Linked DNA regions of Homo sapiens. The protein of the gene in region 3 purifies or fractionates together with the protein of the main gene of each other region. This does not show direct contact. Each region holds a gene or a part of one and is shown on either strand. Other genes may lie near its edges.

Region 1 (3,500 bases), on a different chromosome or scaffold from region 3:
TCACTGCAACTTCTGCCTCCGGGGTTCAAGCAATTCTCTTGCCTCCGAGTAGCTGGGATTACAGGCATGTGCCACCACACCCGGCTAATTTTTTGTATTTTTAGTAGAGACAGGGTTTCACCATGTTAGCCAGGATGGTCTTGATCTCCTGACCTCGTGATCTGTGTGCCTCAGCCTCCCAAAGTGCTGGGATTACAGGCGTGAGCCACCATGCCTGGCCGATTCTTTGACAACTTTTAAATCTTAGCTTTTCATTTACTGTTTTGCATATCGTCATTATCTTTTTACACATTATTTTGATGATGCCTTTATTTTTATGTTGAAAATTTGTGGAATTCATAACTGCTTATTTAGCACTAAGTATGAAACATTGACACAAGCATTATTGATAGATAAGAGAGTGATAGAATGTAAATACTCACCTTCAGAAAGGCCTAACGCAGCAAGAAAGATAACAATATAGGCTGAGTGCAGTAGCTCACACCTGTAATCTCAGCACTTTGGGAGGCTGAGGCTAGAGGATCACTTGAGCCCAGGAGTTCAAGACCAACCTGAGCAATATAGTGAGACCTCGTCTCTGCAAAAAATTTTAAAAATTAGCCACACCTGGTGGCATCCATCTGTGGTCCCAGCTACTCAGGTGGCTGAGGTAGGAGGATTGCTTGATCCTAGGAGGCAGAGGTTGCAGTAAGCCAAGATCATACCACTGCACTCCAGCCTGGCAACAGAGCAAGACCTTGTTACACACACACACACACACACACACAGACACACACGATACAGTATTGCTAGTTGGATCAATTTGAGGATAGTTACCAAGTAAAAGATTTTTATTCCTGGCTTGAATACTTCAAACTATAGTTATTTGAAGCTTTGCAGTACTGTTTAGAAACAGTTTTATGAAACAGTTTTATAGATGCATATAGTTGATTAATATTTTAGCTATAATAGAAGACAAAAATACATGCTAACCGTGTATTTCTTTAGCACTTAACATATTTACCCAACAAATATTTACAAAGGATTATTTGCTGTGTACCATGCACTTTTATTCAATACAATACTGTTCAGTAGCAGACACCAAGTCGAATATCAAGAGAGACAACAGAGCCAAGACCTAAATGCTGATGGACATGTGATTGGACTAGCTGCTCTCTCAGGCCCATGCCATCTCTCATGGTTTGTGGTTGAGGGAATCAAGAATAGTGAAGGCAAATGCATAGCCTGTGGTAGAGCAATCAGATTGGCTTCTTACATCATAGTGGCTGTGTAATAATATTGACAATGGCTAACATTTATTGATCATTTAGAGTGTGCTTGAGATTGGCCTAGTGCTTTAAGGATATTAATGTTAGTTTTCATAACAACTTTATGAAGCAGGTTTAATATCCTTGTTACATAGATGAGGTTAAATTAATGTCAGACTATGTGGTAGAGCCAGATTCAAATCAAATTCCAGAGCCCATACCCTTAACCCTTACATAATACTACTGGTAGGATATTGAAATGGGGTGACTTTTGAAAGACAGAGGTATATCAGGGGATAATGGCAGAGTGTTAAGAAGTTAAAAAAAAATCTGGTTACTTAGGTGATGAAATTTAAAAAGTTTCTTTACACTGTAACTGTCTAGAATAGTTAGCCAAGGAATTTGGATTTGAAACAGTAGGGAGCCACTGTGGGTTTCTGAGTAGGCAAATTGAAGTGGTGAATTCTGGCAGCTTTTTGTGTATGTTGGATAAAGTATGAAGAGATTGGAAGTAGCTTAGGTGATAAGCTGAGAGGCTACTGAAGTAATACTTTTGAGAATTAATGACCTAGAGTGGTTGATGGCTGGGGAAATGAAAAGCAAGGACAATACCAGCGATGTAAGGGAAGAATCTATCGAATTTGGTATTAAATATGGAAGTAAGGGAAGAAGTAGAAGTGAACCTGTCAGTTTTAGGATAGGTGTTAATTGATAAGGCATCTATTTAGATAATATTTTTTGGGGGGATGGGGTTAGTTTGGTTGCTAAACAAATGTATCTCACTAAGTTAAAGTTGGATTTGGACAGATACAAATTTGTGCAGGTGGTAGATGAATTCCTTGTATATAAAGCAAGGCAGAGGATCAGGGGCTGATTTATAAGTGATATCTCCAATTGAAGTAGGAAGGAGGAGGAGGGGAAATAGGGAGAATGGTCCCATGAAAGTTTAAAGTAGGAGTTTCACAAGAAGGATATAATTAAAGGTTAAAATGTAGATTATTCTGTTATTAGTATGATTTAGTTTGGGGAGGATTTTGGGGTCACTTGAGTTTAGAATTATCTGAGCTACTTAAAGACTATAAAGAGATATAATTTTAAATTTTAGAGTACAGTTGAAAACTCTTTGTAAAATGTAGATCTGTGGCATTAACTGTTTAAGTTCACAAATAGTCAATAAAAATTCCTACTTTCAAATAAGAATATTTTGTTAAACTTTTGAGCCATGGGTCAAAAGTCATTTGTAAAACAATAAAATGGCCGGGTGTGGTGGCTCACACCTGTAATCCCAGCAATTTGGGAGGCTGAGGCGGGTGGATCACTTGAGGTCAGGAGTTTGAGACCAGCCTGGGCAACATGGTGAAACCCTGTCTCTATAAAAAATATAAAAAATTAGCCAGATGTGGTAGCGCACGCCTGTAATCTCAGCTACTAGGGAAGCTGAGGCAGGAGAATCGCTTGAACCCGGGAAGCGGGGGTTGCAGTGAGCCGAGATTGTGCCACTGCACTTCAGCCTGGGCGACAGAGCGAGACTCACTGTCTCAAAAAAAATAATAATTAAAAAAATATATATATATTTTTATTTGAAAGTACTGGTATATCAGCTGGGTGCGGCAGCTCATACCTGTAATCCCAGTGCTTTGCGAGGCTGAGGTGGGAGGATCACTTGAGGCCAGGAGTTCAAGACCAGCCTGGGCAACAAAGCGAGATTCCATGGCTACAAATATATGTATATAGATTTAGCTGGGTGCGGTGGTACATGCCTGTGGTCCTAGCTGCTCTGGAAGCTGAGATGGGAGGATCACTTGAGCCCAGAAGTTCGAGGTTACAATGAGTTATCATTATACCACTGCACTCCAGCATGGGTGACAGAACAAGACTTTGTCTCCAAAAAAAAAAAAAAAAAGGAAAAAAGAAAAGAAAGTGGCAACTGACTTATTTATGTATCTATGTTTAGTGAAATTGTATGAGAATTGGTGTGGGAGTTCATAAGAAGGGCTTTATAAGAGTAAAGCATTATTATTTTGAATATAGGGAAATAGGTTCATTTTTCCTGTGGTGTTCATTGCTTCTCAAGTTTTGATGAGCTATGTTTCTATTAGTTAAAAAACATCAACAACAACAGTATGCACTAAGATTCTGCCTTTTTCTGCCCACCTCCACTCTGCCAAGTTCATGAAATTGGAGTACAACAAATGAATTCTTATGTGTTAGGCTGTGCTGTAATTTTACAACTGGTTTAAGCTAAGATTTTAC
Region 2 (3,500 bases), on a different chromosome or scaffold from region 3:
TGAAATACACTGAATTTAGTTAACCAAATTAAGGCTGAGTGAGGTGGCTTGCACCTGTAATCCCAGAGCTTTGGGAGGCTGAGGTGGGAGGACTGTTTGAGGCCAGAAGTTTGAGACCTGGGCAACATATTAAAAAAATTAGCTGGGTGGGGTGGTACGAGCCCAGGAGCTGAAGATTGCAGCAAGCAGTGATTGCACCACTGCATTCCAGCCTGGGCGAGCGAGACACTGTCTCAAAACAAAACAAGAAGGAAAACAAAAGTTGTTCCCATTATTTTATGTGAAGTTAATAAATTTTGAGCACAAAGATTAAAGGCATAAGCCTCAAAAACTAATCAGAAATATTAGTGGTCTATTTAACTCTAACAATGAAAAATCTATCAGTAGAAAAAGAATAGAAAGTATATGCATGGTTGTTTAGTCTTTTATTTGTCCTAGATAGTTGTCTGGAACTTTAATGCATATCTTGTCCAAATTCAAGAAACACAGAGCATTACAGGATTATAACCTGAAATATATTTTACAAATTGATTTATAACTGAAGCTGAACCTGACTAAAAAGTCACTATGATGTAGAATTGCAGGCCTGTCATGGGTTCTTTTTCTCTTAATATGCAACAGAGGCACTTTGGATCTCAATATGCAACACGGGCACTTTGGATCCTCTTTCCTAAGTAAAAAAAATATCTGGAAATAGTATGATGATTATAATGATTACAGATAAAACAATGTCAACATACTTTCAATACAGTTTATGACAATACAACTGTCAAATGATTTCTGAGTTGACCTAAAAATATTATACAAATCACAGACTAAAGCAAAACTCATTCTGCTTTTTATTTCTGTCTTTCAAATTCATTAAATAATAGGTTCCTTTAGTTTGGCTTATTTTGCCTAGTTCAACTTGAATATAATTTATATTATCAGAACTCTTTATAAAAGTATTGAGCCTAAACAATTCTGTTGTTCTGGTCATCTGTCAAATAGATATCTATGCCAACTACGGGTTTCAGAACAGTGTTAAATTTTACATTGACAAAATGTCATCAACCCACCAAACTCTCTTACCTTGGCTACTTGTGTTACTGCACTAGCTGCTAACGCTGCATTTGCAATATCTTCCAGTTTACTTCTTGAAATAGCAGAAATAAAATTTAAATAATATGATTCATATAGTTGATTTCGAAGATCCTATCAATACAATGAAAACTTTATTCTTATAGGATAAAGAAGACCATGAATACATATGTTTCAACTACTATAAGGCAAAGTTATATTTAAAAGACAGGATATTTAAATGACAATCAAAAAAAGTATCCCAAGAGAAAAAACCTTTGAAGTAGTACTGGTTATCTGGTTATCAGATGTAACTAAAATGTTTCTTAATAAAGTAATAAAATTATATTATCAACAAAATCTCATTAATTACAATACAGTACAAACTGCTTTCATACAGCCTATCTGCATTCTTCTTAAAATATCCAGATATGGTCCACTAATATAGTAAAATGCTTGTTATATTTGGCAGACACGATCTTCAACTGTTCTGGACATGTGATGACACAACAAATCCTTCATTGCACACAGACAAGTTATAAATCCAATTACCAATTCTAGAGGTATTTCTTTTCAACTGCTCAAAAGTAGTGCAATTTAAGTTATGCAAATTCTTAAGTCAAATTTACTTATCTTCTTATACTTTTAGCAAATAGATATCGAAATAACCATACTTCCTTAAATCTAAGATGTCATTGACTGTAACAAGAACCATCATTTTATGTAACACTAAGAATTAATGATGCCAATAAAATTTTGTGGCATGATCAATTTTAAGATGCACCTGATTTTAGCGATGTTAAAATGTGAAACATTGAGGGGTTGGAGCCTTTGTGAGGAAGGTGATCAGGGTAGTGGTTCAATCAAGGTCAAGAAATTATTTATGTATGAGGATTGAGAAATAAGTAATATGTTCACGATACTGGGAACCATGTTTTTCACTCTGAGAAAGGAGTTACAAATTTGTAAAGAGAAAAGGGAAACGCTAGAGTGAATCCTGTGTTGCTGAGCTGAAACAGTTTTGGAGGTTATCTGTTTATCTGGATAGGTGAGGGGAAGAGAGGGAGAATTGTAGAAATAAATACAGATATAAAAGTGTATGTATAAATACATAATTTCCTAACTTTTTCCATTGAGAGGACCTAAGAACAGTGACACTCTAGTCACAATGAATATACCTAATGCCTAGATCCTGATTCCTAAATACCATTCTTTACAGAAAGCAACCAGAGCTCCTCAGAAAAATGTCTGAATCCTGGGCTGAGACAGAGAAAGTAAAATCCTAGGCTATATTGGAACATCTTATTGTGCCAGAAAGTAAGGAAGTGGTCAAAGAATGATGCATACATTTCAAAAGGACATATAAGTTCAGCAAGGTTGCAGGATACAAGATAAATACATAAAAATCAATTGAATTTTTATACAATTGCAATGAAGAATCCTAAAAATGGAATTAAGAATTCCATTCATAATAAGCATTAAACACATGAAAGAATAAATTTAACAAAAGAAGCACAAAACTTATGACAAGCTAATCGTAATTTGGAAATTCAAGAAAAGCCAAAACAGTCTGAAAAAAAGTACAAAGTTGGAGGACACAATTTCTCAATTTCAAAACTTGCTATCAAGCAAGAGATATCAACACTGTGTGGTACAGGCATAAGGAAAGACATAGATATCAATGCAATAGAACTGAGAGTTCAGAAATCAAACAAGATATCTGTGGTCAGCTGATTTTTGACAAGGCTGCCAAGACCATTCACTAGGGAAAGAATAGTCTCTTTAATAAATTACGCTGGGACAACTGGATAGCCACATGCAAAAGAATAAAGTTGGACACCTACATCCCACCATATATAAAAATAATGCAAAGGGGAATCAAGACCTACAGGTAAGAGCCAAAACTATAAAATTCTTAGAAGAAAACACAAGAATCTGGAATGGTTTCCTAAATATGACACCAAAAGCATAAGCAACTCAAGAAAAAAAAAAACCGATAAACTGGGCTTCATCAAAATCAAAAATGTTTGTGCTTCAAAGGACATTATCCAGAGAATGAAAAGATAACCCATAGACTGGGAGAAAATATTTACAAATCATAAACTTGTGAGTGTCTAGTATCCAAAACAGAAAAAGAATTCTATCAACTCAACAATAAAAAGACAACCCAATTAAAAACTGGGTGAATGATCTGAATAGATATTTCTAGAAAGACATACAAATGGCCAATAAGCATGTTAAAAGATGCTTAATATCATTAATTACAGAAATGCAAATCAAAACTATAATGAGATGCCACTTCAAACCTATTAGGATGGCTACAATAAAAATATCGGATAGTAAGTGTTCAGCAAGGATCTGGAGAAATCAGAACCCTCACACACTACTGGTGGGAATATAAAATGGTGCAACCACACTTCGCAAAACAGTCTATTACTAAA
Region 3 (5,395 bases):
GGATGTGGGGGAGGGAGGTGCCTACCTGATCCCCTGCTGTATGGTGGTGTCATTGGTGATCCCTGGGAGCGCCGGTGGAGTAACGTTGGTCCATGGAAAGCAGCGCCCCAGAGCTGGAAGGGAGAGCCGGGCTGCTGGGTTGGGGGCCAGGAGCTCTGCCTGGAGGGTCTCTGGCCCCCTCCCAGTCCACAGTGCCCTTAGGGGAGGGAAGGGTGATGGGCCTTGCATCCCTCAGTGGGCTGCTTTTGATTTCACAAATGGGCTTCTGCCCTGTGGAGCCCAGTCTATCCCCTGCCTCCCCTCCCTGTCGTGCCTTGGTTTGGACCCTCCTCTCCGCTGGCCTCAACTCTTAGAACACCCTGTCACCCTTCCATCCACCCTCCACCCGAGTGGAGTGCCAGGGAGACCGTGGCACTGCCTGGACTTCATCACTCCAGGGTTCTGGGTCCCTTTGTGACTCAGACATCTCCAGAGGCTCTGCCCCAGAGACAGCATCCACACTCCCTGGCCAGGCTTCCAGGCTCTCCTGTGCAAATCCAGCCCATGTTCCCTTCTACTCTGTACCTTTGCTCTTACTGTGCCTCTCTCTCAGGGCTCTCTTTCCACCAGAAATCCCATCCATGACTCCCTGTTCAAATCCAGCTCCATCTCACCTCCTCCAGGAAGCCTTCTGACCTTATCCCCACCTCCTTTGGCAACTGTTATGTGCCTACAGAGCCACTTACTGCCATCCTTGCAACAACTTTGCCAGGCAGCCTTGCTTTGTCATTTATTTATCTATTTATTTATTTATTTTCTTATTTTTGAGTCAAGGTCTTGCTCTGTCACCCAGGCTAGAGTGCAGCTGCATGATCATAGCTTACTGCAACATTGAACTTCTGGGCTCAAGCGATCCTCCCCACTTAGCCTCCCAAGCAACTGGGACTATAGATGTGCACCACCACACTTGGCTAATTTTTAAATTTTTTGTACAGATGGGGTTTTGCTGTGTTGCCCAGGCTGGCCTCAAACTCCTGGGCTCAAGCAATCCTCCCACCTCAGCCCCCCAAAGTGTTGGGATTACAGGTGTGAGTCACCTCACCTAGCTTATTTATTTTTTAGAGGCAGGGTTTCTCACTCTATTGCCCAGGCTGGAGTGCAGTGGCACAATCATAGCTCACTGTAACCTCCAACTCCAGGACTCAAGTGATCCTCCCGCCTTAGCCTCCTGAGCAGTTGGGACTACAGGCATGAGCCACTGCACCTCACTGTCATTTACATTCTAAAGATGAGGAAACAAGGTTCAGAGAGGTTGCATAGTTGGGTCAAGACCATAGGGCTGGAAAGTGCTAGAATTTATATTCAGATCTACTTGACTTTGAAGTATTCACTTGAGATACTCCTTACTGTACTTAAATTGATAACTGGATATCTCATCTTATGCTATAAATTGTCTAATTTTTTTTTTTTGAGATGGAGTCTCACTGTTGCCCAGGCTGGAGTGCAGTGGCACCATCTCGGCTCACCGTAAACTCCGCCTCTGGGCTCAAGCAATTCTCCTACTTCAGCCTCCCGAGTAGCTGGGATTTCAGGTGCCCACCACCACACCTGGCTAATTTTTGTATTTTTAGTAGAGACGGGGTTTCACCATGTTGGCCAGACTAGTCTCGAACTCCTGACCTTGTGATCCGCCCGCCTCGGCCTCCCAAAGTGCTGGGATTACAGGTGTGAGCCACTGCTCCCGGCCTAAAATTTTTGTTTGAGACGGAGTCTCGCTCTGTCAGCAAGGCTAGAGTACAGTGGCACGATCTTGGCTCACTGCAAAGCTCACTGCAACCTCTGCCACCCGGGTTCAAGCAATTCTCCTGCCTCAGCCTCCTGAGTAGCTGGGATAAGAGGTGCATGCCACCACGCCCAGCTAAGTTTTGTATTTTTAGTAGAGATAGGGTTTCGCCATGTTGGCCAGGCTGGTCTCGAACTCCTGATCTCAGGTGATCTGCCTGCCTCAGCCTCCCAAAGTGCTAGGATTACAAGCATGAGCCACCATGCCTGGCCTAAAAATTGTTTTATATTAAAAATGACATTTGCAACTGGGTGTCGGGGCTCATGTCTGTAATCCCAGCACTTTGAGAGGCTGAGGTGGGAAGATTGCTTGAATCGAGGAGTTCAAGACCAGCCTGGGCAACATAGCAAGACTTCATCTCTTAAAAAAAAAAAAAGACATTTGCTACTGGAAGGAAGAGCACACTGTAAAAGAAAAAAAGTTCAACTGTGATCCTACCACCCAGCCACGTTCACTTATAACATTTGAACAAATATCCTTCTAGCCTTTTCCCTGTGCATATATAAAAATGATATGTGTGCAGGCTGGGCGTGGTGGCTCATGTCTGTAATCCCAGCACTTTGGGAGGCCAAGGTGGGTGGATCACGAAGTTAGGAGTTCAAGACCAGCTTGGCCAAGATAGTGAAACCCCGTCTCTACTAAAAATACAAATTTAATAAATAAATTTAATAAATAAAATAAAAATAAAAATTAGCCGGGCGTGGTGGCGGGCACCATGTGCTGTAATTCCAGCTACTCGGGAGGCTGAAGCAGAGAAGCGCTTGAACCCGGGAGGCGGGGGTTGCAGTGAGCCGAGATCACGCCACTGCACTCCAGCCTGGGCAACAGAGGAAGACTCCGTCAAAAAAAAAAAAATGTGTGTGTAGATTCACCCATGTATGTTTTCATGAGATTTTCATACAGTCTCTTTGTGAACAACTCTAATCTCTTCACCTAGAATGTAGCTGAAGCAGGGAGCAGTTGTTATCCCTGCCTCTGTCCCCAGCACCTGGCACATAGTAGGTCCCCAAAACACTGATGGTCTGACTGCAAGGCCACATAACAAAGAGCAAAATGAAGACCTGATGCTAATTCCAATTTTGCCACCAACAAGCTATGTGACTTCACTCTCTCTGGGCCTGATTTCTTCATTCAAGCAATGAAAACACTGGACTAGATGACGTCTGAGGAAGGAATCTGTGCTTCTCACCTGGAGCAGAGGGGAGGAGGAAACTGGGGCAGAGTTCCTGTTGCAGGCTTGTGATCACCGTCTGTGGCAGGAGTGAAAGGACAGACACACAGACACAGAGCAGGATGAAGAAGCAGGTCCCCTCACCACCACCATGGGGCTCAGCCTGTCCCACACTCCCCAGGAGAGCCAACCTGGTGATGATCTACCCAACTCCCCCTCCCTCTCGTGCCCACCCTGGCCCTTCTGGGCGACAGTGATGAGGTTAGGGGCAATATTCACCATATTCCAGGGTACCCCTGGCAGACAAAAGTTCCTGTTTTTTGTATAGAAGACTTCCCCAACAGTCTGTGAGAACTCGTTTTTTCCCACAGTCCATGGGTCCTCCGGGCAGGAGGACACACACACCTGGGTGCAGAGAGAACACTAAGGGGCTGGAACCTGAGACCCTGGGTGAGATCTGGGGTAGAGGCAGGTCCCAGGCTCTGACCTGGGGTGTGGGGCACTGTAGGCCGTTCTCAGCAACTGAGATGATGTTGCTGGACAGGATGCAGCTGAAGATGTTGAAGTACAGGAGATACGGCTTATCTCTGTGGGAGGGGAGGGACCATGTGCATCAGGGCCTGGTCAGGTGTTGGGGGAGGGGAGGGACCACTAGGGTGGCTTCTCAAGAATACAGTGGGCCCAGCCCAGCGTGGCCCATACCAGTCACCTCCCAGCTCCTGGCCCTAGCTCAGCTGGGGAGGTAGGGAGATGCCTAGAAGATCTCTCAGAGTAAGTCACCATTGCAGCAGCTGACAAATAGCTCAGAGCATGAACTTGGAGCTCCACAACTTCATATCATCTTTATGATCTTGAGCAAGTCACCTGTTCTCGGTCTTAGTTCTACTCCATATAAAACAGTAGTGCCTACCTCATGAGATTTCAATGCGCTTGTGTGTGTAAAGTTTACTGCCTGCCTGGAACATAGTAAATGCTATATAAATATTTGAGGTTTTATTATTTATTGGACATCTGTATGTGAGGACTGTTGGCATTGCTTCTGGAATTCCCCTTGAATTTCAAATAAGGAAATCAAAGCTCAGAGAGCTTGAGTAACTTGTCCAAGGCCACACAACCAAAACTTGGTCCAGTTGGGGATCCAAACACCAATCTCTGAACTGTAAAACTCATACACTTAACACGACTCTCCACTGCCTCCCATTTCTGGGGGGACTCAAGAAGCTAACTGTCCAGCAATGGTTCTTAACGTGGCCTGGAGTTGTCAGATTCAGGGAGGCTGAGGTGGGGTGGGGACAGCAGGGAAAGGCTGTGGAAGAGCACGGACAGGTCTGGAGCCTGAGTTGGGGGGGTGTCTCCTGCCCACCCTACCTCGCCTCGCTCCTGCACTCCTCTTCTCGCCTTTGTACTCACTTGTTCTCCCCCATGCCACAGTAGGCCCCAGTAGAGTTCCTGGGGTAGAGGACTTGCCGGGGGTCTCCATACAACCAGGCTGCAGACAGAGGCACAGATGAGTCATTGGAGGGCAGGGACTTAGTGGGGCAGTTATGGGAATGGTCCCTCCCTGGGTTCCTGTCCCTCACCCACTGCCCTGGCTCTGAGCAGCTGGAAACTCACCCACAATCCCCACCACGATGTAACCTAGAATGAAGAGCAGGAAGAGGACGCAGCAGATGACATCTGTGCAGCTTCTGAGAGAGAAACGAAACGGGAGGCTGAGCTAAGGAGACTTGGGGAGGTAGGGCTTATGGTCTGGAGGGGTTAAGGGTTAGAGAGTTGGGTGATGCTGCAGCATGGGCATCAGTAGGCTTTATTTTTATTTTTTTATTGCTTTTACTTTTTTATTTTGAGACAGGGTCTCACTCTGTCACACAGACTGGAGTGCAGTGGTGCAATCTTGGCTCACTGCAGCCTCTGCCTCCTGGGTTCAAGCAATTCTCCTGCCTTAGCCTCCCGAGTAGCTGGGATTACAGGCGCGTGCCACTACTGCCCGGCTAATTTTTTTTAAATATTTTATTTAGAAAACCTAGCCAGGCACAGTGGCTCACGACTGTAATACTAGCTACTTGGGAGGCTGAGGCAGGGCAATCCCTTGAGGCCAGGAGTTTGAGACCAGCCTGGGCAACATAGTGAGATCCCATCTCAAAGAAATTAGCCTGGTGTGATGGTGCATGCCTGTAGTCCCAGCTACTCGGAAGGCTAGGGCAGGAGGATCACTTGAGCACAGGAGTTCGAGCCTGCAGTGAACCCCCATCTCCAAAACACAAAAAGAAAGAAAACCTTTTTCTGGGTGGGTAAACTTTCTTCTGAAGTAAAAGACAGAAAAGCACACAACTCGCAAGGGCTCAGCTGGGTGAGTTCTCTCGCTTGTGAAGCCGGCACTTAAGTCAAGAAACAGAACATCC
Region 4 (3,500 bases), on a different chromosome or scaffold from region 3:
TGTCCTGCTTGTTTACTGTTTGTTTACTGTCTACCCAGACTGTGACCTTCAGGTCTTGGTTACCACCGGGTCCCTAGAGCCCAAAACTCTAGGCACATAGTGAATGCTCAATAACCACCAGAGGCTAAATGAATAATCTGCACGCTGGCTGGAGCTGGCATCAGTAGAGCCCGCAGGACATGGCCCCTGCCCTTGGGGAATGAGCCTTCTGGTGGGGAGGCAGACACTGAACAAACAGGACACTCCCAACTTCACTGTGCAAACACGAACTGTAATAAGGACTGTGGGGATGGCGTTGGGAACTTTAAAAGGACATTCTTTGTTGACTCCTTATCAGGAAATATGTCAAGCTCTCCGTATGATTAACCGTATTATTTCTCAAGCCGGTGCCTTTGATATGATTCACCATCCCTGCTTTACAGAGGAGGAAACTAGCTCAAAGCGGCAAACCACTTGCCATAGGATACGGGCCTGGTTTCTTTCTTTTTTCTTTATTTTTTGGAGACAAAGAGTCGCGCTGTCACCCAGGCTGGAGTGCAGTGGCACTATCTCAGCTCAGTGCAACCTGCGCCTCCCAGGTTCAAGTGATTCTCCTGCCTCAGCCTCCGCAGTAGCTGGGATTACAGGCACCCACCACCATGCCCAGCTAATTTTTTGTATTTTAGTAGAGACAGGGTTCCACCACGTTGCTGGTCTCGAACTCCTGAGCTCAGGCAATCCACCTGCCTCAGCATCCCAAAGTGCTAGGAGATTACAGCTGTGAGCCACTGCACCTGGCCATGGGCTTGGTTTATTTCAAGGCAGGATTCCCATTTAGGGGCCTTGATGTATTCTGGGGTGCAGGTGGGATTCCCTCCACCACCTGGGGCAACTCAAAGTTGTCTCTCTTACCTCCAAGCCTTAACATATGCCATTCTGTCTGTCCAGATCGTAGTTCTTCTTTGCCTAGCAAATCCTTATTTGTCCTTCAGGACTTTGGCTCATGCGTGACCCCACAGTCCCCTGGGCAGCTCCCATCCTGGACTACTCTGGGCCGTCACTGTCTGATGACAGGTCCAAGTCCTTCACGGGTCTGTGGGTCACTGCTCTGTCCCCAGCACAATGCGGGACAGGATGCAGGGTAGGCACTCATGTAACACTTGTAAAATAAATTTGTGGAATAAAATACGTGAATAAAATAATTAAACAGCCAGTGGCCCAGGCCACTGCTTTTCCCCTGGGCCATCCCAGCAGCCTCCTCCCTGGTCTCCCTGTTCCCATCCCTGCCCATACCTGTAGTGGGAGGGAGCCTGGGATCATCTGAGTCCATCAGGGTCCTCCTGGGTGGTCCCTCTCTGCCCTCATCAGCCCTGCACTCCCTCTCCCAGCTCCCGCCTTGGTCGGTGCCTCTGCTCAAAATGCCCTTCCTCCCAGACATCCACATCCACATCCACAGGGCTCCCCCACCTCCCTCAGGTCTCTGCTCAGTGGACACCTTCCCTACCTCCCTATTTAACACCCCCTACCCCGCCTCCCGATCCCCCTCCCTGCTCTCTTTCTGCAAAGCAAGTCTCCCTGCTGCCTCCCGGGACCTTCAGTATTTCCCCCTAGTTCTTATCCTTCTCTCCCCACCCCCAACCCCCACCCACGATGTTGAGTGTCCCCATCACCTAGAGCAGGGCCTGGCGTACAGGAGGTGCTCCGTGAGCACATACTGTTGGGGATGGCCTGGGTGATCGGCCCTCCTTCCCCGCCCCCCATAGAACTTGGGTTCCAGCAGGTGCACGACTCCTTGGACCCTGCAGGTCTCCAGGGCAGCAGCCTGGAGTGTGGGCCCCACAGTCCAAGGACCTTCCAGTCAAGTGCCACCGCGTCCTTTCTGTGTGACCCTGAGCTAGTGTCTGAACCCTCCTGTGCCTCAGTTTCCTCTTGGGTATGATGGGAATTAGTGCCCACCTCCTAGGGTTGCACAGAGATGGAGGTGAGGTGAGATCCACAAAGCCCAGTACCTGGAGGGCACCTGGTTTAACTACGCTGCTTTCCCTCCCACAGGGACTGGCGGACTAAGATGGAGTGTACAGCGCGGCTGCCAGCCCAGTGCACCACTGCCCATGACGCTCTGCTGACCCTGACAGGGACCTCACAAGCACTACGCCTGATGTTAGGCGCCTCCATGACTGACCCTCAACTCCAGCCTTTCACCTCTAAATACCCTGCACCCGCCACAAGGAAGTGAGCAAAGCCCATACAAGCCCCTGCCTGCAAGGACCTGACGCTGAAACAGGGAAACATAGACCGTCAGTAAGAAAACAAGTGAGCAGGGATGGCGACCTCAGACACTGGTGAACGCCATAAAGCAATGCTGCTCAGTATGAGCCCCAGAGAGCAGCAGGCAGGACTTGGAAAGTGTTCAAAAGGCAGAGTCCAGGACCCACTCCCAACCTTCTGAATCAGAACTGGGGTGGGGCCAGAGATTCCGACGCACATTCAAGTTTGAGGACCACAGAGATAAGGGATGGGACAACTAGGGGGGCAGAGATGCTTTTTAAATTTTTTTTAGAGACACGGTCACACTCTGTCACCCAGGCTGCAGTACAGTGGCAAAATCATGGTTAACGGCAGCTCCGAACTCCTGGGCTCAAGGAATTCTCAATCCTCAGCCTCCCAGGTCACTCCAGGCCCGAACTCTTGGGCTCAAGCGATCCTCCAGCCTTAGCTTCCCTGATAGCTGGGACTACAGTCTCACACCACCATGCCTAGCTGATTTTTAAAGTTTTTTTGTAGTGATGGGGTCTTGCTATGTTGCCCAGGCTGGTCTCAAACTCCTGACCTCAAGTGATCCTCCCACCTTGGCCTCCCAAAGTGCTGGGATTACAGGCATGAGCCACTGTGCCCAACCAATTTCTTTAGTAACAGTCAGCAAAAGCCTTCCTGAACAAAGCCCACTTGTTCACCTGAGGACAAAGAACACATGTGGCAAAGGCTGGGAGAAGACTCCAGGTGGAGAACATCAAGCTCAGGGACAGGACTGAGCCTGGCAGGTCTGAGTGTGAGTGAGGTGGCCAGTGGGGCTGAGGGAGTAGCGGAGGTGCACAGGCCTGGTGACCCTAGTCAGGAGTTTGGCTTCACCCAGACAGCACTGGTGAGCAGGGAGAGACTCCTAAGCAGCAGGACCACATCCTCCCCTGCCTGCTTTTCTCAGCCCTCTAGCCTGAAACACAGACCTGCCCTACTTTCCCGCAGCCACAGATCTAGGGGCAGGGCCTGGGGGCCGGAATCCTGAAGAGAGGCTCAAGGCACACAGACAGGGCAGGGACCACGCCCCCAGTTTTTGCTCCAGGGCTGGGCAAAGAGGAAGTACTCAAGGGCGGACCCTGCGGCTGCCCAACCAGGATAGCTGAAGGCAGAGTGAAGGGAGGAGCCTGGGGGACTGTTATAGGGGCGAGGAGACTCGGAAGGGATGTTGTTTTGCTTCCGCAGACACCTGACCTCCAACTTCCTAGGCCCCAGTGGACCCAGAG

The links. The genes of interacting proteins can lie anywhere in the genome.
Region 1: the proteins of SLC44A4 (region 3) and SLC25A12 purify together in Homo sapiens (affinity purification with mass spectrometry; one large-scale study listed by BioGRID and IntAct). This does not show direct contact.
Region 2: the proteins of SLC44A4 (region 3) and SCFD1 purify together in Homo sapiens (affinity purification with mass spectrometry; one large-scale study listed by BioGRID and IntAct). This does not show direct contact.
Region 4: the proteins of SLC44A4 (region 3) and GRAMD1A purify together in Homo sapiens (affinity purification with mass spectrometry; one large-scale study listed by BioGRID and IntAct). This does not show direct contact.

Annotation. Positions count from the first base shown.
Region 1 is NC_000002.12:171,887,745-171,891,244, reverse strand, and holds part of SLC25A12 (electrogenic aspartate/glutamate antiporter SLC25A12, mitochondrial), read left to right. Parts: intron 1-3,500. UniProt on the Homo sapiens protein: Mitochondrial electrogenic aspartate/glutamate antiporter that favors efflux of aspartate and entry of glutamate and proton within the mitochondria as part of the malate-aspartate shuttle.
Region 2 is NC_000014.9:30,635,819-30,639,318, reverse strand, and holds part of SCFD1 (sec1 family domain-containing protein 1), read right to left. Parts: intron 1,195-3,500; coding exon 1,072-1,194; intron 1-1,071. UniProt on the Homo sapiens protein: Plays a role in SNARE-pin assembly and Golgi-to-ER retrograde transport via its interaction with COG4. Involved in vesicular transport between the endoplasmic reticulum and the Golgi.
Region 3 is NC_000006.12:31,871,449-31,876,843, forward strand, and holds part of SLC44A4 (choline transporter-like protein 4), read right to left. Parts: intron 4,682-5,395; coding exon 4,608-4,681; intron 4,483-4,607; coding exon 4,404-4,482; intron 3,581-4,403; coding exon 3,481-3,580; intron 3,399-3,480; coding exon 3,273-3,398; intron 3,073-3,272; coding exon 3,012-3,072; intron 114-3,011; coding exon 26-113; intron 1-25. UniProt on the Homo sapiens protein: Choline transporter that plays a role in the choline-acetylcholine system and is required to the efferent innervation of hair cells in the olivocochlear bundle for the maintenance of physiological function of outer hair cells and the protection of hair cells from acoustic injury.
Region 4 is NC_000019.10:35,003,323-35,006,822, reverse strand, and holds part of GRAMD1A (protein Aster-A), read right to left. Parts: intron 1,492-3,500; exon of another isoform or gene 1,273-1,491; intron 1,139-1,272; exon of another isoform or gene 915-1,138; coding exon of another isoform or gene 892-914; intron 1-891. UniProt on the Homo sapiens protein: Cholesterol transporter that mediates non-vesicular transport of cholesterol from the plasma membrane (PM) to the endoplasmic reticulum (ER).